Regions from separate parts of the Homo sapiens genome. Here region 1 is linked to region 2. A link means that fine-mapping ties the variant in region 2 to the expression of a gene that starts in the linked region. Tissue or cell type: whole blood. Region 2 holds a variant in brackets; the other region holds the start of a gene. All regions are shown on one strand. Distances are from middle to middle. Region 1 holds the start of SLC41A3 (solute carrier family 41 member 3). Region 2 holds the start of LOC124909425 (a long non-coding RNA gene).

Region 1 (16,515 bases), 25 kb after region 2:
CAACAACTAACACTCTTTCACGATAAAAACACTTTAAAAAGTTAGCTTTGGGTTTCTCATAGATGCCCTTAGTCAGGATGAGGACATTCCCTTCTATTCCTAGACATTAAGACAAGAATTCTTACCACAGACAAAGAAGGATATTTGATAATGATAAGAGGAATAGAAGGGAATGTTCTCATCCTGATTAAGGGCATCTGTGAGAAACCCAAAGCTAACAAACTTAGCGAGAGTCTGAAAGTTTTCCCACTAAGATTAGGAACAAGACAAGAATCCCTGTTTTTGCCAATTCTATTAAACACTGTACCTGAGGTTCTAGCCAGCACAATTCAGCAAGGAAAAGAAATGAGACGTATCCAGCTTGAAAAGGAAGAAGTAAAATTATCCCTGTTTACAGACGACATAATCTTATACGTAAAAAATCATAAGGGATCCACATACACACAAACTATTACAGCCAGTAAACAAGTTCAGCAAGGTGTAGGACTGGAGGACGCAGGTCAATACACGAAAGTCAGTTTTTTTGTTTTGTTGTTGTTTGGGTTTTTGGGTTGTTTGGTTGTTGTTTTTTTTTTGTTGTTTTGAGACAGGCTCTCACTCTGTCACCTAGGCAGGAGTGCAGTGGCACGATCATAGCTCACTGCACCCTCAACTTCCTAGGCTCAAGTAATCCTCCCACCTCAGCTTCCTGCGTAGCTGGGGCTACAGGTATATTCCACCATGCTCAGCTACTATTTTATTTTTTGTAGACAGGGTCTTGCTATGTTGCCCAGGCTGGTCTCAAACTCCTGAGCTCAGGTGATCCTCCCACCTCAGCCTCCTGAGCAGCTGGGACTACAGGCATATTCCACCATGCTTGGCTAGTATTTTATTTTTTGTAGACAGGGTCTTGCTATGTTGCCCAGGCTGGTCTCAAACTCCTGAGCTCAGGTGATCCTCCCACCTCAGCCTCCTGAGCAGCTGGGACTGCAGGTATATGCTATCATGCTTGGCTATAGTTTTTTATTTTTTGTAGAAATGAGGTCTTGCTATGTTGCCCAGGCTGGTCTCAAATTCCTGGGCTCAACTGATCCTCCTGCCTCAGCCTCCCAAAGTGCTAGGATTACAGCTGTGAGCCACTGTATCCGGCCAGTTTTATTTTTATACACTAATAATGAATAATCTAAAAGTAAATAAATAAAACAATTGCATTTGCAATAGAAATGCAAGAAATGAAGAAAACTTCAGAACAAATTTAACAAAAGAAGTCCAAAACTTGTACCCTGAAAACTATAAAACATTGATCTCCAGGTTTAATACAATCCCTATTCAAATTCCAGTGGTCTTTTTTTTTTCTTTCTCCCTCCCTCCCTCCCTTCCTTCTTTCTTTCTTTCTGGAGAAAATGACAAGCTGATTCTAAAATGCAAATGGAAATGCAAGGGAACAGAAAATCCTGAAAAAAAAGAATGAAGTTGGAGAACACAGACTTCCTAATTTCAAAACTTATTGTAAAACTTGGTATTGGCAAAGAATAGAAATATAGATTAACAGAACAGAACTGAGAGTCTATAAATAAATTCATGCATCTATGGCCAATGGATTTCTGACAAAGGTATAAAAACCATTGGATGGGGAAAGAGTAGTGTCTTCAATAAACGGGGCTGGGACAACTGAATAATCACATGCAAAAGAATGAATTTGAACCCCTACCTCAAACCACATACAAAAACTAACTCAAAATGGCTTAAAGAGTTAAACATAAGAGCTAAAACTACCTAAAACACTTAGAATGAAATACAGGTGTAAATCCCAGGGACTTTGGATTAGGCAACAGTTTCTTAGATGTGATATCTGAAGTACAAGCAACCAAAGAAAAAACTGACAAATTGGATTTCATCAAAATTTGAAAGTTGTGTTTCAAAGAACACTCTCAAGAAAGTAAAGACGATCCACAAAATGTGCAAGTATTTGCCAATCATTATATCTAATGAGGGTTTAGTATCCCAAATATATAAAGAATACTTACAATTCAACAATAAAAAGACAATTTAAATGACAAAGGAATTAAACAGACATTTCTCCAAAGATGTACAATGGCCAATAAGCACATGAAACAATGGTTTCACTTAACATTAAAAGATGCTCAGCTTCATTGTTAGAAAAATGCAAATCAAAACCACAGTAAGATACCACCTAACATAATGTTGTCAAGCTTCATCCATGTTGTTACATGAATCAGTACTTCATTCCTTTTTACAGCTGGGTAATATTCAATTACATGGACATATCATATTTTGCTTACCCACTAATGAGTGACAGACATTTGGGTTATTTCCACTTTGGGGCTATTATAAATAATACTCCTATGACTATTCATGTGCAAGTCTTTGTGTGAATATAAGTTTTCTGTTCTACTGAACTGTACATTTAAAAGGGGTGAATTTTATGGTATGAACTTTATATCACAATAAAAAAATTATGAATCATTTATGAGATAATATTAAAGCAAGCACACTTATACTCCCACTAAGTTCAAGAAGCAAAGCATGACCAGCCTCTCCACTCTGAGCCCCTCTCTGATAACAACTCATTCCTCCCCACCCGAGGTGATACTAGCCTCACTCTGGGGATGACCATTCCTCGATCTGTTTTATTTTTTCTTTAGTTTTACAATGTGTGCAGCCCTAAGTGTTACAGCTGAGTTTGGCCTACTTTGCGATTTAGATCAACAAAGTAACACTCCACGGATTCTTTTCATGTCCAGTTTCTTTCAGTTGACATTAGATTTCTGAGATTCAGCCATGCTGCCGAATCTATTTTATTGCTGTAGAAAACTGAACTGTATGACTGCCCCACAATCTCTTCATCTATTCTACAATCAATAAACCACCTCAGCCTCCTTTCCTTTCCAAAATGAAAATAACTGGATTATTTTTCCAATTACAAAAGTGACATGTGTTAATAAAAAATATAATTTAGACAATACAAAATAATATAACGAGGCTGGGCACGATGCTCATGCCTGTAATACCAGCACTTTGGGAGCTAGAGGCAGGTGGATCACTTGAGGCTAGGAGTTTGAGACCAGCTTGGCCAACATGGTGAGACCTCATCTCTATCAAAAAATACAAAAAATTAGCCAGGTGTGGTGATGCACACCTGTAGTCCCAGTTACTCAGGAGGCTGACGCAGGAGAATCACTTGAACCTGGGAGGCGGAAGCTGCAGTGAGCTGAAATCGCACCACTGCACTCCAGCCTAGGGGACAGAGTAAGACTCTGTCTCAAAAATAAATAAATAAATAAATAAAATAACACTTTAAAAATCACTGACAATTTCACTATTCCAAAATAATCAGTGCAAGTCTAGTGTATATCCTTCCAATGTTTACCCACACAGACACAGGCCCACACACTCACTGTTTTTTTTAATCCATGTTCTAGATCCTGGATTTTATTTGATAGAAAGTATACATCTCTGGCCCGTGTTCAGTAAAATGTCTACATGCCTGCTTGTCATCCTTGCTTGTCAATCACAGTTTCAGGTAAGGAATGAGGTGGTAGGCTTATGCCTCCCAACTGCTGGTAAAACATTTTCCCAAGGAATTTATGGATTCAGGAGGAGCTGACGGAAGAACTGAACAGGGATGTGTGCCCCACACTGTGCCTTGCAGCAGGGAGAAGCTGAGAGTCATGGCGCCTCTTGCCTCCTCCGTGCTTCCTTCTCAGGGGCCTGAATGGAGCAGGTGATGAGTTAGCAAAGGAGCCGCCGGCCTGGGCGACTGTGATGTGCAGTGGGGACAGGGCACAGGGAGGCATCTCGAGTTGGCGGCACCCTCGGTGGCAGGAACGGTGCCCCTCATCCAGCCCAGAGAACCTGGGCCCAGGCGGCACCGGTGTGGCTCCAAGAGGCAATAAACAGAGATGGGAACTGCCTACTCCCACCTGCCTCCCACCTCCCTGAAGGACCTGCAGGGGCCCAATGCCAGGGGCAGAAAATGCCTCCCTCTCACCACACCAGGCCCCTCCAACTCTCCACCCCACTCCCACAGGCAGGAATGGCCACTCTCCTGGCTAGGCAAGGCCACTGCTGCATCCCTTAGGTCCTAACAGCAGAACCCATTCCACCTTCCTCATGACCTTCTCGTCCTCAACCTTCCAGCCTGACCCCTCAGGCCAGACCAGCCATTTTCTTTAAATTCCTATCACATCCTCTGTAGCAATGCTGGTAAAACTGAGCCAGGCTCACACTGGAAGCCTGGAGATCATGGAGAGACAGCTAGTGGAGAAGAAAGGAGAGGAGGAGGACTTGGACCCTGCCCACACTGGGAGGAACCCGTACCACACAGAGCTGAGCTATCGGCCGGCTCTCCAGGCCCCACTCTGCTTCTCTGGGTGGAAGCCCCAGAACCATGAGGAGGAAGGATGCTTGGCAGAACAGGGTGGGGATCATGGGGTCCCTGCAATGCCAGATCCCTAATCTTTTCAAAAAATAACAGACACAGCTACCGATGACCTATGCAGTATGCCTTTACCTCCTTTAATCCTTACGGGACTGTGGGAAGGCTAGACTATTAACGATCACTTTACGCAGAAGAGGAAACAGAGAATTAAAAGAGCACCAGAAAGGCCAGTGTCTCCCCTAGGCCTGGGACCCTACCAGGGTCCTCTCAAGGGGTCGCACCTACAAGGAACCCCTCTCTCCTGCCTCCTCAGTTTCTCCCCTCTACCTCTGTGGGATCATCTGATGAGAACAGAAACTTGCTCTAGGATCTGCCTCTATAAACCCAGCCTTGACGTCAAGCTATCTCTCACTTCATTCCCCTCCTCCTCTTCATGGCAAAACTATACAAAGAATCATGCCCACAGTGTGTTCTCACCTCCCCTCCTCTTCTCCTGATGCAAACTGTTCTTGCCAAGGCCAGTGGTCACCCGAGCAATGCTACAGGCACCCAGACGCCCAAGGCTTATGGACAGGAACAAAGAGAGGTGGTTAACTTTTCCCAGCTCCCTCTGCCAGAAAGGCAGGGCTTGGATGTCCTGAGCAACCAGGGAAGTGGACAGCCAGAAAAAAATTTGAACCTAAATCAGGGATTTAAACTCCTTAAGGTAAGGGAAACACACACACACACACACACACACACACCCACACACGATCAGGGATTTAAATTCCTTAAGGGTAAGGGACACACACACACACACACACACACACAATAGAAAGCAAAAACCAAAGGGGAAAAATGATTAATTTAGCTACATCAAAGTTTAAATATTCTGTAGGACAAAACTTCTAAATAAAATTTAAAAGCAAGCAAAAGCCTAGGAGAAAATAGTTGGACCCAATACAAGAGACAAAGGATAAGTGTGCAAAAAGAATGAAGAACTCCTACAGAGAAAACCATGGAGAAACTGACACAGGATGGGAACAAGAGCTCAGCTGGAGAAACACAAAGGCAGCCTAGACAGCCACCTGAGAAGAGGTTAGGGAAATAAAAATGAAAGCCGATGGAAAGATACATTATGTTTGAGGAATGGAAGAATTTCAATGAAAATGACAATTTTACCCAACGCAATTTACAGATTCAATGCAATCACTACCAAAATACCAATGTCATTCTTCACAGAAATAGAAAAAACAATTCTAAAATTTATATGTAACTACAATAGACCCCAAATAGCCAAAGCAATCCTGAGCAAAAAGAATAAAGCTTGAAGCATCATAGTGACTTCAAAATATACTACAAAGCTGTAGTAACCAAATCAGCATGGTACTGGCAGACACATAAGCCAATGGACAGAAGAGAGAACCTAGATATAAATCCACACACTTATAGCCAACTCATTTTTGACAAATGCACAAGGAACATACTCTGGGGAAAGGACAGTCTCCTCAATAGATGGACTGGAAAAACAGGATATCCATATACAGAAGAATGAAACTAGACCCCTATTTCTCACTATATTAAAAAATCACATCAAAACAGATTAAAGGCTTATATGATTTAAAACCATGAAACTACTAGTAGAAAATATTGGGGAAATTTTGCAGGACATTGGTCTGGGCAGACTTTTTGTGTAAGACCTCAAAAACACAGGCAACCAAAGCAAAAATAGACAAATGGGATTACATCAAGCTAAAAAGTTTCTGCACAGCAAAGGAAACAACAAAGTGAAAAAATAACCCACAGAATGGAAGAAAATATCTGAAACCACTCATCTCACAAGGGATTAATAACCAGAATATATAGTACCAGGAATTCAAACAACTCAATATAAAAAAAATCCAATTAAAATATGGCCAAAAGATCTGAATAGATATTTCTCAAAAGAAGACATAAATGGCTCACATATATGCAAAAAGTACTCAACATCACTAATCATGAGAGAAATGCAAGTCAAAGCCACAATGAGATATTATCCCACCCCATTTTAAATGGCTTTTATAAAAAAGACAGGGAATAATGGACACTGGTAAGGATGTGGAGAAAGTGTTCCTCGTACACTGTTAGTGGGAATGTAAACTAGTTCAGCCACTATGGAGAACAGTATGGAAGTTCCTTTAAAAACTAAAAGCAAGCCAGATGCAGTGGCTCAAGCCTGTAATCCCAGCACTTTGGGAGGCCAAGGTGGGAGAATAACTTGAGGCCAGGAGCTTGAGACCAGCCTGGCCAACATGCCAAAACCCCATCTCTACTAAAATACAAAAAATTAGCTGGGTGTGGTGACACACGCCTGTAGTTCCAGCTACTTGGGAGGCTGAGGCATGAGAGTCACTTGAACCCAGGAGGTGGAGGTTGTGGTGAGCTGAGATTGTGCCACTGCACTCTAGCCTGGGCAACAGAGCGAGATTCCATCTCTGAAAAAAAAAAACAAACTAAAAACAGAACTACCATATGATCCGGCAATCCCACTAATGGGTACATATCCAAAAGAAAGGAAACCAGGATATTGAAGAGATATCTGTACCCCATGTTTCTTGCAGCACTATTCACAATAGCTAAGATATGGATCAACCTAAGTTTCCATACCAGATGAAAGGATAAAGAAGATGCGGTACATATACACAATGGAGTACTATTCAGCCATAAAGAAGAATGAGATCCTGTCATCTGCAACAATATAGATGGAACTGGAGGTCATTACATTCAGTGAAATAAGCCGTGGACAGAAAGACAAACATCACATGGCCTCACTCATATGTGAGCGCTGAAGGAGGGGATCTCAAGGAGGTAGAAAGTTCAATGGTTACCAAAGCCTGTGGCGGGACAGGGGGAAAAAGGGAGGATGGTTAATGGCTAGAAATACACAGTTTGATGGAAGAAATAAGAAATCGTGTTTGATGAATCAATACAGTGACTATAGTTTACAATAATCTATTTTATATTTCGGAATAGCTAGAATTCAAATGTTTCTGGAATAAAAGACCAATCTCTAAAATGATGGATGTCTATATTGCACTGATTTGATCTTTACAAGTTACATGAACGTGTTAAATTATCACAGGCAACTCAAAAATATGTACATCTATTATGTGTCAATAAAATTTTTTTAATATAAATAAATGAACCTGGTGTGATGCACCTCACCTCACCACCACTAGGGCAAGGGGTGGGGAGAAGGGCCTGGAACACAGCCACAGGGCTCTGGGTCTGCCTCTGCCAGAGGCAACTGGGCAGTGACCACTCCAGGCCACACATCCTCACTCAGCCACAGTCTTGGTGAGTCACTCACACGCGTGCCTGAGGAGGTTAACCCAAGAGTGCGCAGCCACTGTGCTTGGTGACAGCAAACACCAGAGCGGCAGGTGCTGGCGCAGCCCTGATCCGTGATTCATGCTGGGAACACGTGTGCAGCTGTACCTAGAGAGCCCCAGCCCTGGTCCACCCTCACTGTGCCTGCACATGGTGCCAGAGGAAGGCCTGGCCAGGGTGACCCGGGAGCAGGGCCCAGCTGGTGTCAGCACCACACCTGCTCTGTGCCCCTTGCAGGGTGGGGGATCTCCCAGCTGTGGACATGGCCAAAGGCCCCTCAGCTCCACCTGAATGTTGGAGTGTTTGCAAGGAGAACATGCTCCAATGTCCCTGTGTCACTGACAGCTCGTGCAGATGAACAACCAAGCACAGGCTGGAGGAGGCTCCTGTGGGAAAGTGGGCTGTGGGCCAGGAAACCTCTAATCCCAGAGCCCCAGGGAGGAGCCAAGATGCCAGAAGATGCCAGTGGAGGCATTGCCTCCAAGGTCCCCACAGAGGACATTGGGCAATGTCTGCACATGGTTTTGGTTGTCCCGACAGGGGGTGATACAGGACAGCCCCCCAAAACAAAGAACTGCCCCACCCCAAATGTCAGTAGTGTGGAGGCCGAGAAACCCTGCTATGGGGCAGTGGTCAGAGACCCTTGTGCCTTGAAAGGGGCTAGGCTGGGCAGGACAGGTTGTGGACCACCTGGGGCCACAGTTCAGAGCCACGCCTGAGTCTGTGAGGCTGCCCACCCTCCCAGCTGCCAGCATGGGGTTGGGGGGTATCCGCCCCCATCAGACTGAGGAGGAAACGGACACTCTGTCACCCAGAAGCATCCCTGTGTCACCCTGTGAGGTTGGCCTTGGACCCAGGCCTCTAGGCGCCCCGTCAGCACCCCAGTGCGAACACATCCTGCCCGGGGACCTGGACCCAGCAGCTCACACAGACCAGGGCTCGCCCAAAGGCAGGCAGGCAGGGCCACTGCTGACCACGCACCTGGCTGGTCGTGATTCTGGAACTAATGGTTTCTGCCTGGCAGGGAGGCCGCCAGGACCTCTGGGCTTCACCCCTCCCCACCTTCACAGGGGACCTCGCCTCAGTGGGAATGTTCTGGAGCCGGAACCCAAGGTTGGAATCCCAGCTCCTCCCCTTTCTAGGTCTGTGACCTTGGAAAAATTAAACTTTCTGTACCTCTGTTGCCTAATCTGTGAAATGGGGTAATACTACCTACTGTGTAGGGCTGTGAAGATTAAATGGAGTCATGCATTATCATCACAGGGCACCTGGCCCATCCTCAACCCCAGTTCAGACTCCTCAAAGCCCTAAGGTTTCAGATCAATGGTCAGAACCACGAGGAGGACCTGCTAAAGACAAGTATGGGGACCCACCCCCAAGGTTTAGGATTTAGAAGGTCAGGGTGGGGCTGGGGAACCCGCATTTCTAGCAGATCTCAGGAAAGGCAGTGCTGCTGGTCCTGGGACCACAGTTTGAAAACCACTGGTGTAAAAAAAGCCTTCTAAAAAAAAGTGGGATTTGATCACTAAAGTCATATGGAAAAAACTGGAAGAAAGAGGAAAAAATAAACAAATAAATAACGGGATTTTAAAGAGACCTATCCCACCGGCTCTCCTGGATGGAGAGAGTGTGGGACTCTGAGACAGACTCCCGGCTGGGCACCCCCAGGAGGTTTTCTTCACCAGAGGTTTGCACCGAGCCCACCCAGGACAGTGGGCTGAGCCTGTGGTAGAGGCTGGCGGGAGGTCTGGCTGAGGCAGCGAGGGGTCCCTGCGCGCGGGCGCTGCAGGAGTCACGCGTGTGACATCCAACCAGGAGCCGTGCCCTGAGCAGGCCAGGAAGGAGGAGACAGGGCCGCTGAATGCACACCGCAGCGGTGTGGGGAGCGGCCTCAGACACCTAAGGGTAGGACCGGCCGGCTCCCCCGCGACCCCCAGCGCCTGGGTTCTCTCCCGGCCTCCCCGAGGCGTGGCCTACCCCAGGCATGGCCCCACCCCGCCCCAGGCCGCCCCTCCGACCCCTCGTGTTTACCTCATCTCCCGCGCGCCTTTCCCCCACCGAGTCCCCCAAATCCCGGTCCCCACCTGACTCCCCCTCCCGCCGAGCCCCCAGGGCCCGGCGCCCGGCTCACTCGCCTCCCGCGCACCCACTCCCGGGCGCCCTCTCCCGCGCGCCTCCCCGACCCCCCTTGGGCCCCAGCTGACCCCACCTTCCGCCCCAACCCCGCCCGGAACAGGGCCGCGCTTACCGGGTCCCCTCCCAGGCGGCGGCGGGAAAGAGGCGGGCGGAGGACGCAGGGGCGGGCCTGCGGCTCAGGCAGGAAGCGGGAAGGCCGGGCCTCCCTGGCCCCGCCCCGGCCGGGCGGCCGGACCTCGGACGACTTGGCGCTCCGGGACAGCAGCAGACGCCCAAGCTCCGGCAGCGCAGAGCCCCGCCGGGGGCCCGGGGGGCTGGGAGCCGGGGATCGCGGGGACGGAAGTGGGGGACCGAGTCTCGCGAGCCCGGGCCCTCCTCGCAGCTGGGGCCCCACTGGCGCCCCCGCGGGAGCGCTACGGGAGAGGCGCCTATGCGGCTGCAGGTTTTATTATGGAGCTGTCAAGGTAGAAAGGTACGGAGAACGGGAACCCACCGACAGCCAACTTCCCTTGGGACCCGCCTTTTGCTTTAAAAACAACAACGACAAGTCTGTGCTTCACCCCACACATGCCTTTCGTTTTCCCTTTTTTCCCAGAGTAATTTTAAAGCATCCCAGTGGATAAATTCTCCTTTAAATACTCGAGTATGTTTAATCAGTAAGGCCTATTTTTTTAAACATTCTCATAGTATTACGGTCACACCTAACGAAATTGGCAATTCCCAGTCCGGGCCTGAGGGAGGCCTGATGGTTCACAAGACTTGGTAAAATATATCATTATATTTTAAACCAAAAAATAAATGATAAGGCACCTCCCCGTTCCCAACCACCAAATCATCCGAATGGACTTCTTCCTCAGCCAGGACTTTTAGAATTTAACCTGAAAAACTGGTTCAGGCCATAAGGGGAAGTGGAGGCCGAACATGCCTCATTATCCCTCTCCTGCATTAACATCAACACAGACTTTAAGTCTGATAAGAAACATTTTACAGCCTCTTCTCTCTGAAGCCTGCTACCCTATCCGAATACTTCATCTGCGTGATAAAACACATTGGTCTCCACAACCTCTTAACCCAGACATTCCTTTCTTTAATCCCAGGTCTTTGGACAAACTCAACCAATTGTCAACCAGAAAATGTTTAAGTTGACCTATACCCTAGAACCACCCTCCCCCTCTTTGAGTTTTCCTGCCTTTCTGGATCAAACAAATTTATTTCTTAAATGAACTTAACTTGAAGTCTCATGCCTCCTCAGAATGTATTAAACCAAGCTGCACCCCGACCTCCTTGGGCACATGTTCTCAAGACCTCCTGAAGGCTGTGTCACTGGCTGTGGTCACTCATATTTGGCTCACAATAAATCTCTTCAAATATTTTACAGAGTTTGACTCTTCCACAATAATTTGGCACCCAGCGTGGGGCCTCAGAGAAGACTCAGGACCCCAAAGGAGTTGCCTGAACTCGGAGCGAAGATACCAGTGGGGCCCATTGAAGCCTCCCAGACTTCTAGCTTCTCCCCCGATGGAACTGGTTAAGTTCTCCTGAGCCCCAGATCGCCCTTTGGTTGACAGTCCTTCGTTTAGTGTGAGCTGGTTTTTCTCCTAGGAAGTTGTTGTTTAAGGATTCTAATTCTAGTTCAGAGACACATTCTAAAGGGTTTTCTTTATTGCTTTTTCTCCCAAAATTAATCTTGATTCGGCTTGTCTGCGCATTTGTGTGAGGAATTGAACTGTTGTTTTCATAGGTAAATGAGAGACTGAGTTTTCTCAACTCCAAAGAGAAAGGCATTTGCTCCTCCCAGCCAAAACGTGCTCCTGGGTGACTGGGGGCCTTGTGGGAGTGTCTGGGGGGGGGTTGACATCCTGTGACATGCAGCAGCCCTATGGGGAAATCCCCAACAAAAATTAATTTTAAAAATGGCTTGTCCAGGAATGCATATAAGGACTGATCACCCATCATTTTGAGCCCTCTCAAAGGTAATAGACCTCTGGAGAGAGAAACTGAGACATGTAACAGGGTGGAAACAACTCAGTGGTGACACATGGTGGGGTCCTGCCCACAAGCAGCACACATTGATCCACCACACAAAAACCCTAGGCCACAGCTCAGTTCCTACTTCTAAGAAAAAAAAAGGTGGGAAACAAATGATCTAAGAATGAGGAGAAAACAAGGAGAATGACCTCATTTCGGGCACTCTGTTGGTTTTATGGTGCGTCTACTTGCCAGAGCTTATGTAAAATGGAAATATAATGATCCTTGTGCACATTTACATTAAGGAAAAGAGCCCTAAGGTCAACCTGTACACTATAGAGTTCCTAAGTTCTCTTCTTCTCTATATTTTCTGCCTGCTTTAAATCTGCTTTTACTTTTGTACTGAAATTAAAAACCACTGTTTGGATCTAACCTATTTTTCTTTTTCTTTGTTTTCTTGTTTTTTTTTTTTTTTTTTTTTTTTTTTTTGCAAGCTGGGGAATTTGTATTTATCTCATGGCTAAAGTTCTGAAGTAAAAGCTATAGGATCTGTGTGTGTGTGTGTGTGTGTGTGTGTGTGTGTGTGTGTGTATTTAAAAGGATTTTATAATAGACTTCTATAATTTTGTTTAAATGGCAAATTAAATCCATTTTAATTTCCCTCTAGCAAACCAGACTGTCTCTTGGTACTTTGAGATGTAAATTTTGCTATCTGATTTTTCACCTAAGAGTTGTTTCCTTTAATATGCAAATGTAGGACTATTTAGCTGACAACTGCCCAGGGTGATGAAACAGGCTATCATGAATTTAAAAGTCTAAGGGAAAAAGAGGTCTTACAAATACATAAGATGTACTTCTATTGCCATGCCTAATACGCTATGCATTTATGTGTTGTGTACACAATGTGTCACTACTAAAAATATGTAAAAGAGCTCTAATTAGCTTAAGTAAAAATAAAAGCACTTAAATACTTGATCAAAAAATACTAATCAATGCTTTTCAAGTTCACGTGACAAGTAAAATATTTAATAAATAAACTGTCTTTAAAATCATTGGTAAAAAAAATTAAAATGTTCTAAGAATTGTTAGTATTTTTGTTTGCATTTATTGATCAAGTAGCTTCATGCTTATTCCTTCAGAATACTATAAGATTAGCCATAGGGTTATAAAACTATAAAACCCAGCCCAAGACAGAATGATCTTTGCTTGTATAATTTTTGATAAATAAGACATGGAATATGGTTGGTTTAATGAAAACAGCTAAATCATGAGTTACTGGAAAAAATACTCTTATATTTAATCATAAGTTCATTATTGAAGTAAACACCTGAAATTCACAGCTATAAAAATGGTTAACAGGGAAATAACTTCAATAATGACTGTCACAGTTTTTGTTAATAATCCAGGTAAACAAATAAATTAATCAGGTAAAGGTAATGGAATAAGTGTTTGTAAACAAACGTCATATAATTTAGGACCTCAGGTTATTAATAAGTATTAAGTATCTGGGTAATTTCCAATTTAAAAATTATAGAAAAACTTTTTTTTAAATGGTAAATATCTTTTTCTAATTCAAAGCTTATTTAAAGGTTATGTATAAAACAAGGTAAAAGGAACTAGGAAATAAGAGATGTAGAGAAACATAAGACATAAAGAGGTAATTTTTGGTAAAGAAGGTAAAAAGGAAAGTGATACTATATAAGAAAGAATCTTGTGTAGCGAATTTTTGTCCTAAAATAAAATGACTAGGTTGTTCAAGAAAGATATTTAGGACAGAACAGAAAATTTAAGCATGTTGTGAATGGTCTATGTAAGTTGTAATAAGGTTAGTAAAAGGAATTTGTTTAAAAAAAAAAAGATTGTATAATGCAGTTGGCTATGATTAAGAAGAAATTATAGTAGTCTTTCTAGAGATGGGTCTTTGATATTTAAAAAATACACTAATACAAAACTAAATAATTGGCTAAAACAGTATTTTATTACAAATATTGACTTATTTTTAATGTAATAAGTTTTAAATTTATAAACTCTATAATCTGTCTCTTTGACATTCTGCAGATTGATATCTCACAAGCTCAGCTCTTTCTCTTTTGAAATGGCCTTAGATAATAGATCTCTCCTTCACCTTTTGTTGGTTCCTGTAACTTAATAATAGTTATAGGATAATTAACAAAATTATCTGAAGGGAGATAATTTTTTTTTGAAAACAGGCCAATAAAATTAGATCTTGTAGACCTTTTAATTCTGCATGCCTGTTATATCTTTATCTGTGTCATGTGGAAGTGATATTTCACTACCAAACTACATGAAAGAGCTCTAACCTAGTAACTTTAAAAATGTAAGTGCTTATCAGATTGGTAGATGCTAGCTCAGATGACTTTTAATTCACATGATCTTGGTAATCTTTGGTAAAAGTAATTTGGCAAATTTAATCTCAAAACTCTCTAGTAATTTAAAATCTTAAAGTCATGTTAAAACCTCAGTTTTTATCACTGGAAATTTTGAATTACTAAAAGTTAAAATAGGAGCATAAAATATGTTTTTGGTGAAGTTTATAAAACACAAGGATGTTGATTTTGCCAGAAAAGGAAAGTAGGTTTTTCTTCGCTAGTTAAAAAACTACTTAAGAGTTGCTTTAGAATGAAGAAAAAAATATATACAGATAAAACTAAATAGAACAATTAAGCCAGAGCAACAAAAGTTAACTCAGACCTGTGGCTATCAAAAAGATAGTCAATGTGGGGGAAGGGCAAAACTATTTAAAACCAGAGGGTATAATATAAAGAAATTGTTTCATTTTGTAGATTTGTATCATCAGCTTCTTAAAAAAATGTATAGCGGATTGTAAAAATAACCACTTTAAGGACAAAATCCTTAATTTTAAATGCTACAGAAATTAAGAGCTTGTTTGGGTTGATGCAGCACCCCACAGCTCACTATTGAACAATCACTAATGAGTATATATGATCCAAATGCAGAAGAGGTCATTCCTGAGAGAACAGTTAGTCTAGTGGACCAGATAAATGCCACCATAATGTCTGGTTGCCCTGAGAAGGGGACTGCCCAGCTCTCTGTATAAAATACCAAGTGAAACAAGCACCTCAGATGAAGCAGTTAATATGCTTCATGTGCAAGCCATATAACTGGATTTAGGATAACTGGTATATCCTTCCACCAAATATGCCTATTACCGAAGTCATGGTAAATTTGGGGGTTGAGGGGGTCCCTTTTACATGGTTGCCCCTCCCACAGAATCATAACGACTGCTTGAGAAGCCTTATCAAATTTGCTATCCCTCATGAGTTTTGCAGATGCAGCTTGCTGCTAGGAACCCAAACCTTTTTTCACCAGAAAAGGTAAAATGGTCTTGGGGTAGAAAAAGGTTCCTGGGACCAGGACATAAAAACATACAGGTTAATAAAATAATGAAATGTAAGATGTTTAAACAAACTTTATGTAAGGTAGTTGTAACACCTTTTACCTAAATGTCTTATGAAAATGGGTACTGCATTTGACTGAGGGATGTTTCCCCTTTCTAGTGCTATAAAACTAAGGGCATGTAAATCTGCTCTTTTGAGAAATTGGACACACCAAATGGGAACTAGTAAGGTTTTCTGAACCCACATACTATAGGGTAGAAGCTGGAATACTAGTCAGGACAAATCCTCCACTTCATATCGTTTGTGGAACATTTACTGGGGCTGATGGCAAAAGACTGAGTACTTCCCAATGACAAAAACTAAACTAGAGAATTTCCAGTTGAGGGCCATTTACTGCCTTAATCTGGAATGTTAATTGAAGCTATCCCTATGTTAATGGAAACAATGGTGCCCAAAAGAGTTCCATAATAAAATAAAAATGGTTTACATAGAATCTTGCTACCTGGGAATATAAGGAGGAGATACTGATAAACAAGGAGCCCTTTCTTAGGACTAATTCTAACTCTGGGAGGAGTTGCTGGATTCCACAGTGCCTGATAGACAGCTCTCATGAGCTGCTTGGCTTGTGAATGGTATTTCCGAGGTAAATAGACATCTCATTTAAAAGATGCTGCTCTAGTTAAAGAAGGTCAAGAAAATCTTTTTTTTTTTTTTTTTTTTTTTTTAGTTATTTGAGTGAAGTATGTTTTTTAAGCAAATGTACCTTTCTCTCTAAGTTCTCCAAAATCTGGATTGTGGTTTTATGACAATATAGTTATTTGTGTAAGTTCAATAAAAGTCTTTTAAAACAGAACAGTTGGAGACAATGGTTAATGTACAAAGACTTTAACTAAAATAGTATATTTTTAGGTAAAGTTCCAGCAAAGCCAACTTAGAAGGAGCCTATGTGGCTAATCAATTTTTGCTGAATTTTATGCAAATAATCAGGACAAGTATAATGAGCCTAGAACTTACTTTACACAGAAATTGGTCTTACTATAATTTCTCTTTAGTAGAAAAGAAAGGAGCTAAAAAATGGTTTTAAAGGAAAAGTGTAACACTTGGCAGTAGATTTTGACCATAATTTTTGTTTTTTAAAGTGTAGATTAAATCATGAATTATTTCTTGGCTACAATAATCCTATAGAGAGTACCAGGTTATAATTTTTCTTCATATTTTTAATTGGTGCCCTAATTGAATAGGCTCCTTTTTCTGTTCTGACACACAAATTACTCTTATAATTGTCAAACTATAAATGTTATT
Region 2 (16,515 bases):
TGTTTTACATATTTTAAGAGAATTAAAACACTGAGATACGATCGTTGTAGAGAAGTGTTTAAAATGTAGTTACGGGCTGGGCACGGTGGCTCATGCCTATAATCCCAGCACTTTGGGAGGCTGAGGCGGGCAGATCACTGGAGGTCAGGAGTTCAAGACCAGCCTGACCAACATGGTATAACCCTGCCTCTGCTAAAAATACAAAAATTGGCCGGGTGTGATGGCACACACCTGTAATCCCAGCTACTTGGGAGGCTGAGGCATGAGAATCACTTGAGCCCAGGAGGCAGGGGTTGCAGTGAGCTGAGATCATGCCACTGGACTCTGGCCTGGGTGACACAGCAAAACTGTCTCAAAAAAAAAATGCAGTTAAACACTATGAAACAAACACCTGAAATGCCTCCATGGCAGAGATTACTATCAACATTTTTTTCCCTCCCAAACACTGACCAAAACAATTGTGCACACACGTATGCATGTGTATACATGAGTTGTGTGTGCATGTGTGTAGCTGTATCATGTTACCAGCTGCTCAGACATTTCCACATCCCACAAGGCTCCACATGATCTGGCCCCATGTGTTAGTTTCCTCTCGCTGCTGTAACAAACTTAGTGGCTTAAAACAAAAGAAATCTATCCTCTTATAGTTCTAGAGGACAGGAGTCTGAAATGAGTCTTATGGGGTCAAAATCAAAACCTCACTCCCTCTGGAAGCTCTAGGGGAGAATCTGTTTCCTTCTCTTTCCCAGCACACAGAGCTCCATCTCTTGGCTCATGGCCCTTCCTCTGTCGTCAAAGCCAGGAGCACAGTATCTTTCCTCTCTTATGCTGCTTCCACTACATGGCCTTTTTTCCTGTCTGAAACGTCCCTCTGTTCCTCTCTATAAGGACCCCTGTGGTTACACTGGGTCTATCTGTATAATCCAGGACAATCTCCCATCCCAAGGGGCTTCTCTTAGTCACCTCTGCAAGGGCCTCTTCCCTATAAGTTAACATCCACAGGTTCCAAGACCAGGACCTGGTTATCTCTGGGGCCACTGTTCAGCCACTTGCGCCTCACCTATCTCTTCAGCCTCATGTTCGGCAGCCCCCTGCCCCCACCCCACCTGCCCTCTACTCTATAGCTACGTTGCTGTCCTCTCAGATCCTTGAACACACCACAACCTCCTCTTGCCACAGTCTTTGTCACCTACAGGATATCACATGGGCATCAGAGAAAGGGAGAAACCATTCTGTGTAGTAGAAGGGAAAAAGCTTCAGTCTCCTGGGATAGCTGGGAAGGTGTGAGAAGAGCTGGTAAAGCTAGGAACTGTGTTGGTTCAAGAGCCCAGAGAAGACACCTCCAGTGATCAAGCATTCAGGGAGCCATTCTGGGGAGCAGAAGCCACTGAGAAAGGTTAATCTGGGTGACAAAACCTTCCTGTCTCCTCCATGGAACCCTCCATCAGGTCTGCATTGCTTGTCGTGGCTTCTGTGTGAACGTGTGATGGGGCTGAGCTCAGGGTCCAGGTGGATGCGGGTGGCAGGGCGGTGTGCAGACTCGGGGCACAAGGCACCCACTGACATTTAGGTCAAAGGAGGAACAGGGGCAAACAGGGTTGTGCACATCCCTCAGTCATCCAGTTTGGTAGTGGAAAGCCAAGGCATTGGGCTGGGAGAGGGACAAGGGACAGCATGATGAGGTATCAAAACCCAGAAATATCCATTGTTTTGGAGAATCCAACCCACCGCCCACAAGCCAGGGGAGACCAGGTGGTAGGGACGCGCCTGCCTCACGTTGTGGCCGCCTCGAATGTCCAGGTGTCCACTTACAGCTGTGGAGAGTCTGGATGCCAGTGTCATCTCCAGGTTCCCCTTCAGGCCCACCAGGGGCGGCACCAATGTCAAAAGGTCTTTCACCTCCACAAACACAGGCCAGTGCTGGTAGGGAAACAGTAAGGAGATAAGCCAAACACACACATCAGCAAATCTCTGGAAATTTCTTGAGAGAACCTTCAGCAAGTCACTTTTCACTCCCTATAAAATGAACAAATAGGACTAAGTACTTTCTTAAATGGCTTTAAACTAAACAGAAATAAATGAAGCTGTGAAAACCTTTTAGTGCTGTTAACTGAATCAGTATCAGCGGCCGTAAGCACACTGGGGGCTGGGCCAGGCTGGAGGCCAGCGGGTGGCAGCCATGCTGCATGTGCTCTGCACCATGGGTTCTCTAGAGGCATGCACAGGTCCCGGATGAGAAAGATGGGAATTTCTCATGAATGGGGAGGCCTAGAAACACCCACAAGACGGCCAGGCTGAGGAAGGGCCCTGACTCTACCGGGGATCAACGATCTTCACACAGGCCATGCAGGCCCTGCCTCCCTCTGCCCCCAGGTCCAGGGACTGCGTGCCTGCTGCCACTGAGCACCCTGTGGGGCTCAGGGTTTTTAAAAACAGATAGAATATGCCTCTATCCCATTAAAAGTAGAAAAATCAATAACTTCAAAGACAGATGAAAGGGATTCATGCTTCAAGGAAAATGGAAGAGAAAACACTTATTGGCAGAGGTGAAAACAATTCTTAACTGTTTAATGTGCAATTAGATGTTCCCCTAAATCAGTTTTAATGCCCCACCTGATCCTACTGATTTATTTTGCCTGTCTGGCTGCTGCTGAGATCTTTGACGCCTAACACTAGAAGCTTCTCCTGGTTTTGGAATTCTAGACCTGGAAACAAATCCCTGCTTCGTCATCAAGGAGAAAGGCGGCCTGGGATCTAGGCCCTGTCCATCCCCTACAAGGCAAGAGCTGTGTAAAGATGTGCAAATCCACCCAGCCCCTAGGGACTTGGACAGTCATCCATAAGCTGCCCAGCAACAGGCTTGACCAGGCGTGAAGGTGAAGAGATCAGACCAGAGGCCCTTTAAGACTCCTTTCTGCTCTCAGACCAAGGAAGATGAGCACTGTTTAGTTTCTTCCTGTACCTTATCTACCAGGCTGTGGAATTCAGAATCCAGTTCCAGCTCTGATGGAGTTCTGAGTTTGCCCTCTCTTAAAACTTGAGAAGAAAACAATGCCACCAGGCAGGGTGTCCTCCCACACCTCACAGTCTCCTGGTGGCATCTGGCCACAGCTCTGTGCAGCTGTCCTCTCAGCCTGCACACCCTCCACATAGGGTGGGCCTCCGTCCTCAGCAGGGGAACCAAGGCCATCATCAAGTACTCCCCAGCTGGCCTTTGGGCACCACCACCCACACCCTCCCTAACGTCCTGTGGAGCCCAGCGTGCTCATGGGCACTCTCTCTGTCTATACCCAAGACCCGGCACCTACCAACCCCAAAGTCACAGCAAACTCCTCCTTTCAGCCTGCGCCACCCAGCAGCCTTCCTCCTGCTCTCTGAGCACTACTACCTCTGAACAAGTGCCTGTTCTCACCCATCACCCTCAGTGCTGCAACTCTATGGCTCTCACCGTCTCCCTAAAGGAAGTGGTGGCCTCCTGATGGGTAAGCCCCATCTGCTGCTCTCCCTGCAGGGTGGCACTGTCCTCCCCTCCACGGATAAAGCACCTGCTGACAGGCACAGCTCTGTACCCTCTCCCCTGGCCTCTGGGCCTCCACCCCCAGTCCTTTGCCAACCTCACTATCCACCCCATCTCGGCCCCTCTTCTTCCTCCTGACCATGTTAATACCGATCTTCCTTCCTGCTTTCTTTTCAGTTCTCCTTTCTCCTCACACCCTCTCCCTTCCGCAGCTCGAGTACCCTTCCACTGTGCACACAGCACTATCTTCCAGCAGACACCCCACCTGCTCCATGCTCCCGGGGCTTTCAGCAGGAAGCCTGGGCGGAAGACGGCGGGGGAAGCTGAATCCTGATGCATAGTGGTCCCATCCTCCTTGCCAGACGTTGCTATGACTGGTCAGTGAGACCTGAGAAGTCCTGTCTGGTCACATCGGGTATCACACAACCGTGACGGGACTAAAGTCTATGGACACTGGCTGAACTGTGTCCCCCAAAACTCGTATGGTGAAGTCCTCATGCCTAGTACCAAAACATGACTGTATTTGGAGAGACTGTCTTTAATGAGATAATTAAGTTGAAATGCAGTCATGAGGGTGGGTCCTAGCCCAGTATGCGTGGCATCCTCATTAGAGGAGGAAATTAGGACCTAGACATGCACAGAGGGGAGACCATGTGAAGACACAGGGCCATCTGCAAAGCTCAAAAACCAACCCTGCCAACACTTTCATCTCAGACTTCCAGCCTCTGGAACTGCGGAAAAAAATCAGTTTCTATTGTTTAAGCTACCTCCTCTGTGGTATTTTGTGATGGCAGTCCTAGCAAACTAATACAAATGTAAAGTGAAAAAATACTGGGTGACACTGTTAATCCAGTAACTAACCAATTCTGGCACTGTCCTATCTCTAGACTTCTTTACAGAGATAATCAGTGTCTTTGTTTTTACCTAACCAATTCTGGCACTGTCCTATCTCTAGACTTCTTTACAGAGATAATCAGTGTCTTTGTTTTTAAAGTCCCTTTGAGTTAGGTTTCCTGTTACCTGCAGCCAATAGCAAATACACTGACTGATACCCTGGGCTTGTGTGGGTGCCTCCCAGTGTCTATGACTCAGAAGTCTCTGTGAGCATCAGATCTGCCCATCCAACTCTGGCTGAACTTTGGACACCCCACAAGCACCTCAAACTCCAAATCTCCAAACTTCTCCTTGCCACCCGTGTCCTTCCTGCTCTGCCAGCCAGGACTCAACACCTTCTTTTCCCCAATCTGACATTCAAGTCATCACAACTTTTAAATTCTGCCACCGCCCTCTCCAGCAACACTGTAAAGATGCCTATATCAGTCATTGGGGAGGCTGAAATCATCAGAAATAATGATTCTTGCACTTGAGGGGCTCTGAACTCTGCCCACAGTCCCCCAGCTCTCCCCTGCTCCTCCGGCCTCACCCTCGGGGTCATCTTTGACACCACTGTCTGGGGTGGGTTTTGTGGCACAAATATGACCCCATCACTCAGCCACCTGTAACCCTTCACTGCCAACTCCTCTCCTGAGTATACCTAACACATAAGTCCTATGAACCCCAAAGACACACAGGCATATGTCAAGAACAGTCAACGCAAACCCACAGCACTGGAGTCAGAGGTGGGGCTGAGATGACTAAGCACAGAGGACTCTGCTGGGGCTCTGCTGAGGATGCCCCAGGTGGGGCTGCAAAGGCCCCTGTACCTTGAGGTGGTCCATGGAGCTGCACAGTTGTGTGCTCTCCTACGTGTCTATGCTACCCTTCAATAAAACCAGCAAGACACTCATTTTAACATAAAGCAAACACCTGCTACACTCAGTGCACGGCACACCCTCTGAGCAGAGTAGACAGAGCCCCTCACTCCTGCCCAGTATCACTGTCCCCATGACAGCGGCCACCCCTGTCTCTCACTTTCCACAAATGCACACTATCATTCACCTGTATCTTTGCACACAAATCCCTCTGCTTGGAATGTTCACGTCTTTTCAGGGCATCCTGGAAATTGCTACATTACCTTTAAAGTCCAAATCAAATTGTCCTGCTCCTCTGCAGATCCCCTGGCCCCTAGGAAGAATGACTGCTCCCTCTTCCTTCACAGGCAAACACCTCCTTGTGGCCTCCACTCCCTGCCCAGCCCTCCGGAACGCCTAATAGTCTCTCTCCCCAGCATCAGCAGGGTGGTCTCAGGGAAGGAGCGACAAGCTCTCAGCACAGCTCTAGGATGAGGCTATTGGGGGAACAAGTGGGTATTCAGGTTGCAAGCCCACAGAAGCACAGGCTTTCTAATGGGGGGCTGGCCAGGATGCAAAAGGCCACCCCAGCCCCAAAAGGGGATGAGCGTCCCATCAACTGAGACGAGCAAGCAGAAGCCACCTGGGAGGCATCGTGAGCTCAGATTAGGAGGCTGGGTGGCCTGGTGGGTACAGACTGCCCCTCTCCAACTTGGACCCAGGGGCACAGAAAGACTCTGAGTGGCCATTAGGAAGGAGGTGCTGCATACACTCGGGAACATGAAATGCTACTTGGGGTGTCCTCATGGGTTGAAATTTTAAATTTATATTTACAGATTAAAAAGCAAAACTGCAGGCCAGGCACGGTGGCTCACACCTGTAATCCCAGCACTTTGGGAGGCTGAGGTGGGTGGATCACGAGGTCAGGAGTTCGAGACCAGCCTGGCCAACATGGTGAAACCCCGTCTCTACTAAAAATACAAAAAAATTAGCTGGGCCTGGTGGCGGGCACCTGTAATCCCAGCTACTTGGGAGCTGAGGCAGGAGAATCATTTGAACCCAGGAGGCGGAGGTTGCAGTGAGCCGAGATCACGCCATTGCATTCCAGCCTGGGCGACAGGGCAAGACTCTGTCTCAAAAAAACAAAAAGCAAAACTGCATACTATAAACCATATATGTATATGTTTATATGTACATAGAAAATTGTCTTGAAAGGTCCACAGCAGCGGTGATAGAGATGAAGGGACAGCCTTCCTCCATTGCTTGGGTGTATTTTCCAATTTTTCTAAACTGACTCTACGAAATGTTTCAGTTGACAGATAGCACAAACCTCTCAATGATTCCAATACGCTGCCCAAACCATGCTAGGGGAGAAACAGACTGTGATAAGCAAATCTCCCTCAGCACACGCCTCCACTGCAGGGAGACCGCCATGGCCCTCCCACCTGCACCCCCAGGGCTGCAAACCTTGTCCTTTTTTACCAGGGGCCACGCCAGGATGCTGCGGGCTGGGCACACTGCAGCTCTGCCCACAGGGACCACAGCATACAGACTCAGTCATCTGGTCCTCACAATTCTGTGAGGTGAGGGCTTTCATTATCCCCATTTTACAGATGGGGAAATCAAGGCAGAACAGTGTGACTAAAAATCCCCTCCACTGGTGAGTGGCAGACTCTGCCTCCTGAGCCCACATACACTGGGAGGAAGGCGGTTTGAGCTCCTTGGGCTGAGGAGGCACATGCAGGCTAAGGTTCTGACAAACCTCCATCATTCTGCGAATCTCTAATGCTGAGGTCTCAGCGTTGGAGGTCCCTCCTGCCAGCCTCGCTGACACCCGGGACGCCCAAGCAGCAAGGGCAGGTTGAGGGCTGCCCTCCCACTGTAGAGGCCCCTCATGTCTCCAGCCTGCCCTGTCTGTGGTGCCAGGAGACCCAGTCTGTGTGTCTCCCACCCCTGATCCCCCAAACACCCAGTACGCACTTGAATGGTGTTCATCACCAGGCCGGCTGTCATCATGCACAAGCCGGACAGCAGAATGGGCACCACGACCTGGCACATGATGGTGAAGAAAGATTCAGGCAAGACCCCATGTGGGGACCG[G/C]GTAAGCTCACAGCTGAAGCCTCGCAGCTTCTTGCCCTGAAAGCAAAACTCCAGATTCAGCTGGGTGACCACCATGGCCAGGCAATGCACCACGATCCCAGGAGCACGAAGTCAGAGCCTGGGGTGCTCCAGTCCTCTCCTCCTGGCCCACACCAGGACGCTGTTCCCAAGAAGTCCACACAAACAGAAGCTTCCCAGTCACCAGGTGCCCTGTGCCTGCAGAGAGTTCCCCAACAGCCCCTCGGCTGAGGGCCAGCACAGATGAGTGAGGAACAAAGGCCAGTGTGACTCACGGCCTCATTACAGAGACTCTGCCAGGCCCTGCTGTCCCTCCCTGAAGGTCAGGCTCTCCTCAGACAGTGGCTGTGTGTCCGCCGGGACCTCCCTCTGCCAGTCTGCCATGGAGGCTCATGGTCCCTCTGCACCGGCCTTGACAGCAATCAGCAGCCCAGCAGGCTGGTCCATACTGGCTTGGGCTGGACAGAGCTGAAGCCCACGTGGTGCCTGGCCTTGGTGAGTGCCCACACGGAGGTCTGCTGCCACCTCGCCCTGTACAAGTGTGCTGGGCTGTTCCCCTCCTGGCAGAGGAGGGCCTGGGGAGAGATCAGCACAGAGGGACTGCCTCCTCAGGCCAGCTCTACAGACCTCGAGTTTTATTCCTCAAGGTCAAGCAGTCTATGGGTCCCCAAGCAGGAAGCCACGCCCTGGGTCATCTCAAGTTGTGTCCAGCCAGGGGGTTCATGGCCACAGGAAGCTGTGTTCACAGAAAAAAACGCAGGCCTGTTCTCCCTCCATGGCCTGGAAGACTCATAAACATGCTTCCAAAGTGGCCTCGCTTTCTTCAGCTACAAATGTCAGACTGGCCCTGCTGACCCCTCCTCACCCAGAGAAGGAGAAGGGGCTGGGAAGCCACCTCTGACTCCTGGGGTTCTGTTGTTGGGTGTGTCCTCTGCGCATTCCACAGGCACCAGGAACAGAATGTTCAGGCCTGAGGGCAGGCTGGGGCAGGCAGAAGCCCGAAGCTGGGGGTCAGACTCACACCAGCTGAACCCAGCACTGTGGTCGGGTCTAGGCCTCACTTCCACTCCCATCCCTAAACTGTCGCCCTAGTGGGCACGTTACCTGGTTCTCCCGTCGGACTATCCCAGGCTTAAGTGCAGACCCCAGCCTGGAGTCCACTGCCCTCCCCAGTGTGGATCCTACCGGCCTCCCCAAGGCTGTCCCTGCAACCGAACTCCAGACGAATTTCTCCAGCACCTGTTCCCCTCGTGCCCCCAATATTTCTTGCACTGCGTCTTTGTGCACACCCTTCATTTACTCATTCATTCAACAGATATTTTTAAGCCCCTCATAGGAGCAATGCATAACTGGCCCTAAACTCCAGCACAATTCCCACTGAGAGCTAGAGTTTCTGACCCCCTCTTCCCTCTGTCCCCACAGCTTAACCGAGAGAACAAAGTGGAAGAGACGCTGTGGTAGTCAGTTTCTAGGCATGGATCTTAAGAAACTGACAACTTCTATGTCCTATCTCTTGGGCTGCTCATGCTCCCAGCCACTCTGCTGTGAGGAAGACCACGTGGTCACACATAGAGGCCGTATGCCAGGGTCCTGCTCACAGCCCAGCCTTGCACATGAGTGGGCCGTCTTGGGCTGGCCCAACAGCCACCACGCACGCAGAGCAGGCGGTTCTTCTCACCGGGCCCTGCCCAACCTGTAGATTCCGCATCAAACAATAATTGGCTTTAAACAAACTGCTAAGCTTGGGTGTCCTTCGTTACATAGCCGTAGTTAACTGCATTTGGGGAATCTCTTCCTCATCCGTGATCTCGCTATTTCAGATGTAGCAACTCCCAAACCTCTCACAGCCCAGACCTCTCCTCTGAGCTTTCAGATCATATACCCAGGCTCTGGTAGGGATGAGCATGTATCTCACTCCACCAGTCTCTCAGGACTGCCACTTCCAAGCCTGCCTCTCCCAAGTGGCCTGCCTCAAGGAAAGGTGCAGCCAGAAATGCAAGCCTCACTCGGAGCCCCTACCATCTCAGTCCCACATCCACTCTGCCTGTCCCCACACCTCTCCCACAGCTGTCCCCCACTCCTGCCCACAGACGCTGCCTTCACCACGGCCCTTTGTCCCTCTAATCTGTCTCCTCACAAAACCACTGTGTGCTCTTCACAGGCACAACCCACAGGTGCACTGTGAGGATGGCCCTTGCTCACACAGTGTGTGGTCAACACACTGCCTGAGAAAGGAGCATCCGGACCCCTTGCAATCTGGAAAGACACATCCACGTGAGCCTCCTTCTTGCAAGTACATGGTCATATGCTGCAGCTGCAGACAGAACTTCTCATGACCCTCACGGGGGCCATGCCCGTGCTCCTCCCCTCTGCTGCAGGCCAACACATCACCCAGGCCAAACGTCTGCCAGGCCTCATGGCCAGCTGAGGCACCTCCTCTCAGCCAGAGCCTAACAGCTCTTTCCCCAGAATTCCCAACGTACTCTCTGAACCTTCCTGAAGACAGGTCCCACTTTTGCATAACAGAAGCATAAAATGCAGGTGTATCTGCTCTCCCTCCCTGGCACGCACCCCTCCTGAGAACAGAGCCCTTCTCACTGCTGCAATCTTGGGGCTTCTCCATGGCTCCATTCCACAGATCAGTACTTAGGGCCTAGTAATTGCCAGCCTCCGCCCTAAATGCCAGGGTACACTGCGAGCAGAACAAACACAGGTTATCAGTCAAAAAAGAAAGAAAGAGAAAGAAAGAAAGAAAGAAAGAAAGAAAGAAGAAAGAAAGAAAGAAAGAAAGAAAGAAAGAAAGAAAGAAAGAAAGGAAGGATGATCTGTGATAAGTGCTCTGAAGCAAACCCAGGGCATAACAAGGGCACAGAGCAGACTCGGCCACACGCAAACAGTCACTGCAAATGAATGAAGGAATGCCCGTAACACTCAGTCACTGCAATTGGATGAAGGAGTGCCCATTTGTTCCCTTGTGCAGCACTCTGTATTTCTCAGAGCTCTCTCACATTCTATCATTTTCACAACAGCCCTGGGATGTTCACAGGAACTATAGCATTCTGTTTTGCAAATGAAGAAAATGAACAGTTTCCCAAGATCACACAGCAAGTTAGTGTCAAAGGCAGGCCGAGACCCTCAGCTTCTGGGCTGCCTGCCAACCCCATCACTGCCCGTCATCCATGGTTAGGATCAGTTTGTTCAAACAGGAGATTGAACCGGCAGGAGGCAGAGAGAAATGGCCTGATTCTGAGAGAAGTGTTGCAGAAGGTTACTGGTTTAAAGGCATCACCTGGTTAAAGACAGAGTCCTCTGTCTTTAAGGCTGGCCTAGTTTCCCTGGCTGCTCAAGGCCTGTTGTGGGATGCACATTCCCAAGGCATACAGCTGAGCAGCCCCCAAACAGGTGATCACTTCCTTCAGGTGTCACCACCTCTCACAGTGTCATCATAGTTTCGGACGTGGTCAAACATCATCACACAACGTATAATCATACACAGTGAATCCTGGAACCACCCTCATCAGCACAGGAGACGCAGAAATAAACAACCATTTGCAGACTCTCATATAGAAAGAGGTGTCTGACCAAGTAGTTACAAATCATTACAAAAATGTTTCTCAAATCTGTTTAAAAATTGAGTGAGAGACCGGGTGCGGTGGCTAATGCCTGTAATCCCAGCACTTTGGGAGGCTGAGGCGGGCAGATCACCTGAGGTCGGGAGTTCGAGACCAGCCTGACCAGTATGGAGAAACCCCGTCTCTACTAATAATACAAAAATTAGCTGGGCGTGGTGGCGCATGCCTGTAATCCCAGCTACTCGGGAGGCTGAGGCACCAGAATCACTTGAACCTGGGAGGCGGAGGTTGCGGTGAGCTGAGATCATGCCATTGCACTCCAGCCTGGAAAACAAGAGCAAAACTCTGTCTCAAAAAAAAAGTGAGAAGGATACACACACACACACACACACACGTGCATGCACAGTGAAACGTTCAGAAGGATATATACCAAAATGTTAACAGTAGTTGCCTTTGGGTGGTGGGTTCATAAGTAATCTTTATAATTTTTTGTCTATTCTGACAATTGTGACTATTTGCTTTTATAAATAAAAAACTATCAAAAGCAAATAATGTAACTATATAAGAAAAATGACTTTCCTGTGAAAACCTGAGAAGAAAACATGTCAACACAGCTCACTGGGTTATAATCCAGAAAATCAAAAGTGTGGTTTTAAAAATAGCTCAGTAGCACAGCAGAAGAATCTCAAAGAGCTTGAACTAGATTCCAGCTGCACGGAGCAGCAGGTGGAAGCCGGGTCCAGCGGTTTCTGTGTGACCTTCTCTGGGCCTCCAACCCACCCCACAGCCCACAGCATGAGCAAGTGGCACAAGATCAGTGGTGCTCACCCATCAGGGGCACCAGGACCACCTGAGGAGCTTCTGCAACAGGCCGCCCAGGCTCCACAAAGACCACAGGATCAGAACGTTGAGGACCACTGATCTCTGCCCACCACCTCGTTCTTACTGGGGTGTGTTTTTAGGGGAGGGTCCACAGAGTGTGGGCAGGGGCTCTGGAGTACATTTCTGACACTGCAGTGGGAACTGCTTGTTTACCAGGAGCAGTTTCCAACGCAGCATCCAATTCATTTCTCAGGGTCACCTTGACCCTCGGCAGGTTCTGGGCCAGATGGTCATTCTTACAGGCATGAATTCTTCCCCCATCTTGTTCAGGTCTCACAGATCAGGCCAATTAAATTTTAAATAACTGTTAAGGTTCTTCTTTATTTTCTGCTTCTGATCTCGACTGGCAGAACCCACCCACAGGTGAAGATGAAAGACTTGTCCACCCCCTGCCAGGCTGGCCTGCTCCCACACTGTCTCCAAGCAGCCTCTCTTGCCTCCCCTGCAACACCTCCTCCTGGGGAAGGGGGATCTTCTTGGCCTCCCTCCGCAGGGCCGCTCCCACCACTTGCTGGAGCACACAGCCCTCATTGCTATCAACGTTGACCCCAGAACCTGCTGTGTGAGCGGCATGAGGGCAGGGGTGTCTGCCTGGCACAGGTACACAGTATATGCTGCCTGAATGAGTGAATGAATGAATGAATGAACGAACTGCTGTGGCCCTCACCTGTCCAGGGCTGGGTGTCAAGGGTCCACCATACCCTTAACCCAAGGGTGAGACCCCCTCCCTCATTGATGAGGTGAAGAGGAGGTGACCATAACAACAGGCTCACAAACAGATGGGCCCACCGTGACTGAGGACACCTGGCCAGCTCTCCCTGCCTGTTCTTTGCTTGCTAACAAGCCCACACAGCCAGTTGGGATGCAACTGCAAATTGCTGGCTTGAACCTCTGCTGTCTCTCTTGGGCTCTGTCATCTCCTCCCACCCTAAAGGGTTATTTTCGCCCCCATGACGAGAACCACTGTTAACTGACTACAGGCTGGTGTGGGGCTGGTGGGTGCTCCCTGGCACTCCTGCCACCTGGTCTGACTTACAAATTGGCTTGACAAGATGAGACTCCACAGACCCTCCCCTGCTCACCATTAAAACAGTTAATACTACCCAATGCAAATTACAACAGGACCTTCAAGGAGGGAAATTTATTATGTGAGACTTAAACAGGGTATGTCAATCCTCCTGCTTCTCCTTTACACAGGCCAATATGGCTCATTCCTAAACCTGGGGAGAACAAAAGGGTGCCTCCTGGTGGATTACCACCACCTTAATGGCATGACCCTGTCCATTCAGACCCCCACATCCAATACCGAATATTATTGAAATCACTGACTCCATCCAAATCAACTGGTACTTTGCTGCTATAGACTTGGCTAATACATTCTGTTCAGTGCCTATTTCACCAGCCTCTCAGACACAGTTGGCCTTCACCTCTAAAGGGACACTAGATACCTTTTCCAGGCTCCCCACAGGGACCTCCGCAGCTCTGCCATCACACACAGTCATGCGGCCAAGGTCTCCCCTGCATCTGCCTTTCTCAGGAGCACAGTTACATTACACTGATGATGCCCTCCTCCGCAGAGGCTCTTTTGACACACTCATTAAGGGCATACAAGTAACTCACAAAGGCACTCACAATGAGAGAGGGGGCCATCACCCTACATGTGGTGCGAGGCCTGGCACCTTGGTTAAATGCCTGAAAATTACTTGGTAAACTGAGAGCCGTCCCCAACACTGCAACAAAAGAAGTATTAACCTTCTCAGCATCCACAACATTAATACAAGTCTCCAATATCTTTTAGTTCTTTTTGGGTTTTGGAAGCAACATATTTCTCATCTACAAATTTTACTTACGCCCATTTATGCTGTCATCTGCAAAGCAAGCCAACTCAAACAGGCCACTCCAACAAAAGGTTCTAGGATCTGCCCAAGTTAATATCAGCAGTTACTCTTATTAGTGCCCCCAGAAACGCCTTCATGGAAGAGAGGGGCATTAGCAACCTCCCCTCAAGCCCTGGAGTCTACAGGCTGATGGCCGTAAGTTGTCTAGGGGCTGCGGATCCAGGGAAATGCTCTCCTCCACCCTGCACTGTGCACCATCAGAGGAGTAGCTGCTGGACACATGCTGGGCTCTCCTGGAAGCATAGGTTCTCACAGACGTTGTGCCTGTGACCCTCCATTCCCACTGCCCATTATGCCTTCACATGTGGCACCCCCAAGCTCAGTACAGCTACTGAGGTCTCCTTAAAAATAGAATGGAGCCAAACCTGGGCTCTCTGGCATATGCCACCTGCAGGAGGGGTGGTCTCCCCTGTCCTCAGTCCTTTGCCAGACGCCATGGTGCCAGAGGAGTCACCCCTCCCTGGGCCTCTTGGCTACCCAAGGCCCCTTGAGATGGGCTGGCCATTCACGGTGGGAGCTATAGGCTTCACGGTGGGTGCTGCCGTGTAATATGCAAGGGAGCTCAGGGGAAGGCTGCTGCTTCCCATCTTAACCAGGAAGTCCCTGATAAAGAGCAAACCTCTAAGGGTCAGCGCAGTGGCCAAGCATCAGGCAATCAACAGCATAGGCGCCCTGGCCTGCTGGCAGCTCCCTCTGCACCTGGGCACAGGCTCTTGGCCCAGAGCCTCAAAGATGCCCCACTTGGGGGTAGAGAGCTCTGGGAATTTCCTGCCTCACTGACACACAAAACATAAAACAGGGTAACAAATGCCTACACATATACTACAGCCACACACAAGGCCTCAGCCAGTCACTCCTGATCCTCTCTAAAGTTCAGACATGGCCGACGGTGGCCAAGGCCCTCATTTCCTTCTTGAAATATAGAGCACCAGCTCTGCAGGAAGCACCCAGTGGAGCCTCTACTTCCTGGGTGGGCCACAGGCAGCCAGGGTTAGCAGGAGGCACATGGGCCCCTCACTTCAACTCCGATGAAGTGACAGGTGGCAAGGTGACCTCCACTGGGTGTCACCACTGTCACAGGCACTGATTAAGCCAGATCCAACCCCCCCCCGGGGACACACACTCCCCATACCCAGGCCACCAAATCCCTCTGTTGCCCTTCCTGGACAAGAGCACCACATGGTACTCTCCCTCCTGGCCAAGGGTCTGTGCTGCTTCCTGGAGAGGCTCTTCTATTCCCTGGAAGTCTCAGTCACCACCAAGACTTAAGCTGGCATCGAGGCATCAAGGGGTCAATGGTGGGGTAAGGCCTAAAACTACGAAGTGCGGCCTCAACACCTGGAGAAAGCAAGATAATGTGAGCGGCGCGTTCCCCTCCTGACTCTGCTCCTGTGGATGAGGTTCCCAGCCCAAGAGCCTCCTTATCTCAGGGCAGGAACTGTCCCTCCACATCCCCGAGGAGCACGCTTCAGTTTCTGCCACCCTGTGGAATTACGCATATAGTCAGGAATGGAGGGCAGGTTTCCCACTCTCTTGTTATGACAAATCTTGCCCCCCACATCCCCTGCTGACTCACTCTGCTCCCCAGTGGCCCCGCAAGGTGTGCAGCATCCTCCTGCCTGGGTGACTGGTATGAGGACTAACAAATTGCCGTGGTCCTCACCTGTCCAGAGCCAGGTGTTGAGTGTCCACCATCCCCATAACCCTAGGGCAGGACTCCCCACCCTCACCAGCAGAGTAAAGAGGAGGCAATTAAAACAGGCTGCTCTCACCTCCTCCCGCACCCCCAGTCTTCTCTCTCTGCCCACATGAAACACCCCTCCAGCCAGCCCTCTTGCCCTCCTGGCCTTTCTAGACCGCTCGGTGTCTCTGTAAGGCCATAGCTTGCCTGGAGACCCCCGTTCTTCCCGGCACATGCACACAATGCTCATCCCAGTCCACCCACAGAGCCCAGGACTGCATCAGTTTCTGGAGACTGCTGCCATTCCTGCCTGCTCCACGCATTCCAGTGAGGAGTCCTGGTGGAATTTCAGAAAGATTAACTTGGAGGAGCTTGGCGTCATCAGGTAAACCCTTTAAAGGGAGCAGGTGCTTCCTGAAGTCAGAGAGGGATTTCACCCAAGGGAGGTTTCTCCACTGCTGCCTTTGAAGATGGAAGGGCCACAAGGCAAGACGTAGGAGTGGCCTCGAGAAGTGAAGTGCAGCCCCTGGCTGATAGCCAGCAAGGAAATGGAACTGCAGTCCTTCAACCTCAGGGAGGAACCCAGCACCAGGAGGTGAGTTCTGAAGACAGGACTATGCTTAGAAGTGGATGTTCCCCCAGAGCCTCATGAAGAGAATGCATCCTGGCCAGCACGTGGATTTCAGCTGTTGAGACCCTGAGCAGAGATCCCAGCCATACCATGCCTGCCCTCTGCCTTACAGAACTATGAGCTAATCAATGCGTGCTGTTTTAAGCTGTTAAATTTGTGGTAATGTGGAACACAGCGATATAAAACTGATACAAAAACCACATGTTGCCAAATCTTCTGAGTTTTAAAGAGGAGCTGAATATAAGCACTTTAATGAAAAGCTTCCAGTTTTGAAATGTTTGCACTGAACTGAACACTAACCAGCCAACAAACCGATGCAGACCAGCACGACAGCTGTGTACACCCACTTTGAACCTCTCATATATGCAATGAAAAGAAAGCAGACTTGTAGCAGAGAGTTTTTCTTCTTCATGGGAACACATCCCTAGTCTCTAATATGTGCTGCCCTGTGCACGCACATGGGCAGATGGGCACCTGTATAAAAAG

Evidence for each region. PIP is the estimated chance that this variant, and not a neighbour inherited with it, causes the effect.
Region 1: SLC41A3 starts here. The variant in region 2 is fine-mapped to the expression of SLC41A3 in whole blood (INTERVAL, PIP above 0.99).

What each region holds. Positions count from the first base shown.
Region 1 is chr3:126,074,116-126,090,630 of GRCh38, forward strand. It overlaps SLC41A3 (solute carrier family 41 member 3), which reads right to left and starts at 10,009. Exons shown (of 11, transcript NM_017836.4): 1 at 9,978-10,009. It overlaps ALDH1L1-AS1 (ALDH1L1 antisense RNA 1), which reads left to right and starts at 10,100. Exons shown (of 8, transcript NR_190231.1): 1 at 10,100-10,337. RefSeq lists silencers at 9,657-9,766, 9,807-10,356.
Region 2 is chr3:126,049,131-126,065,645 of GRCh38, forward strand. It overlaps SLC41A3 (solute carrier family 41 member 3), which reads right to left. Exons shown (of 11, transcript NM_017836.4): 3 at 1,813-1,920. It overlaps LOC124909425 (a long non-coding RNA gene), which reads left to right and starts at 7,691. Exons shown (of 2, transcript XR_007096055.1): 1 at 7,691-7,860; 2 at 8,788-9,098. RefSeq lists an enhancer at 9,702-10,201. The variant G/C (reference allele first, on the strand shown) is at 7,348.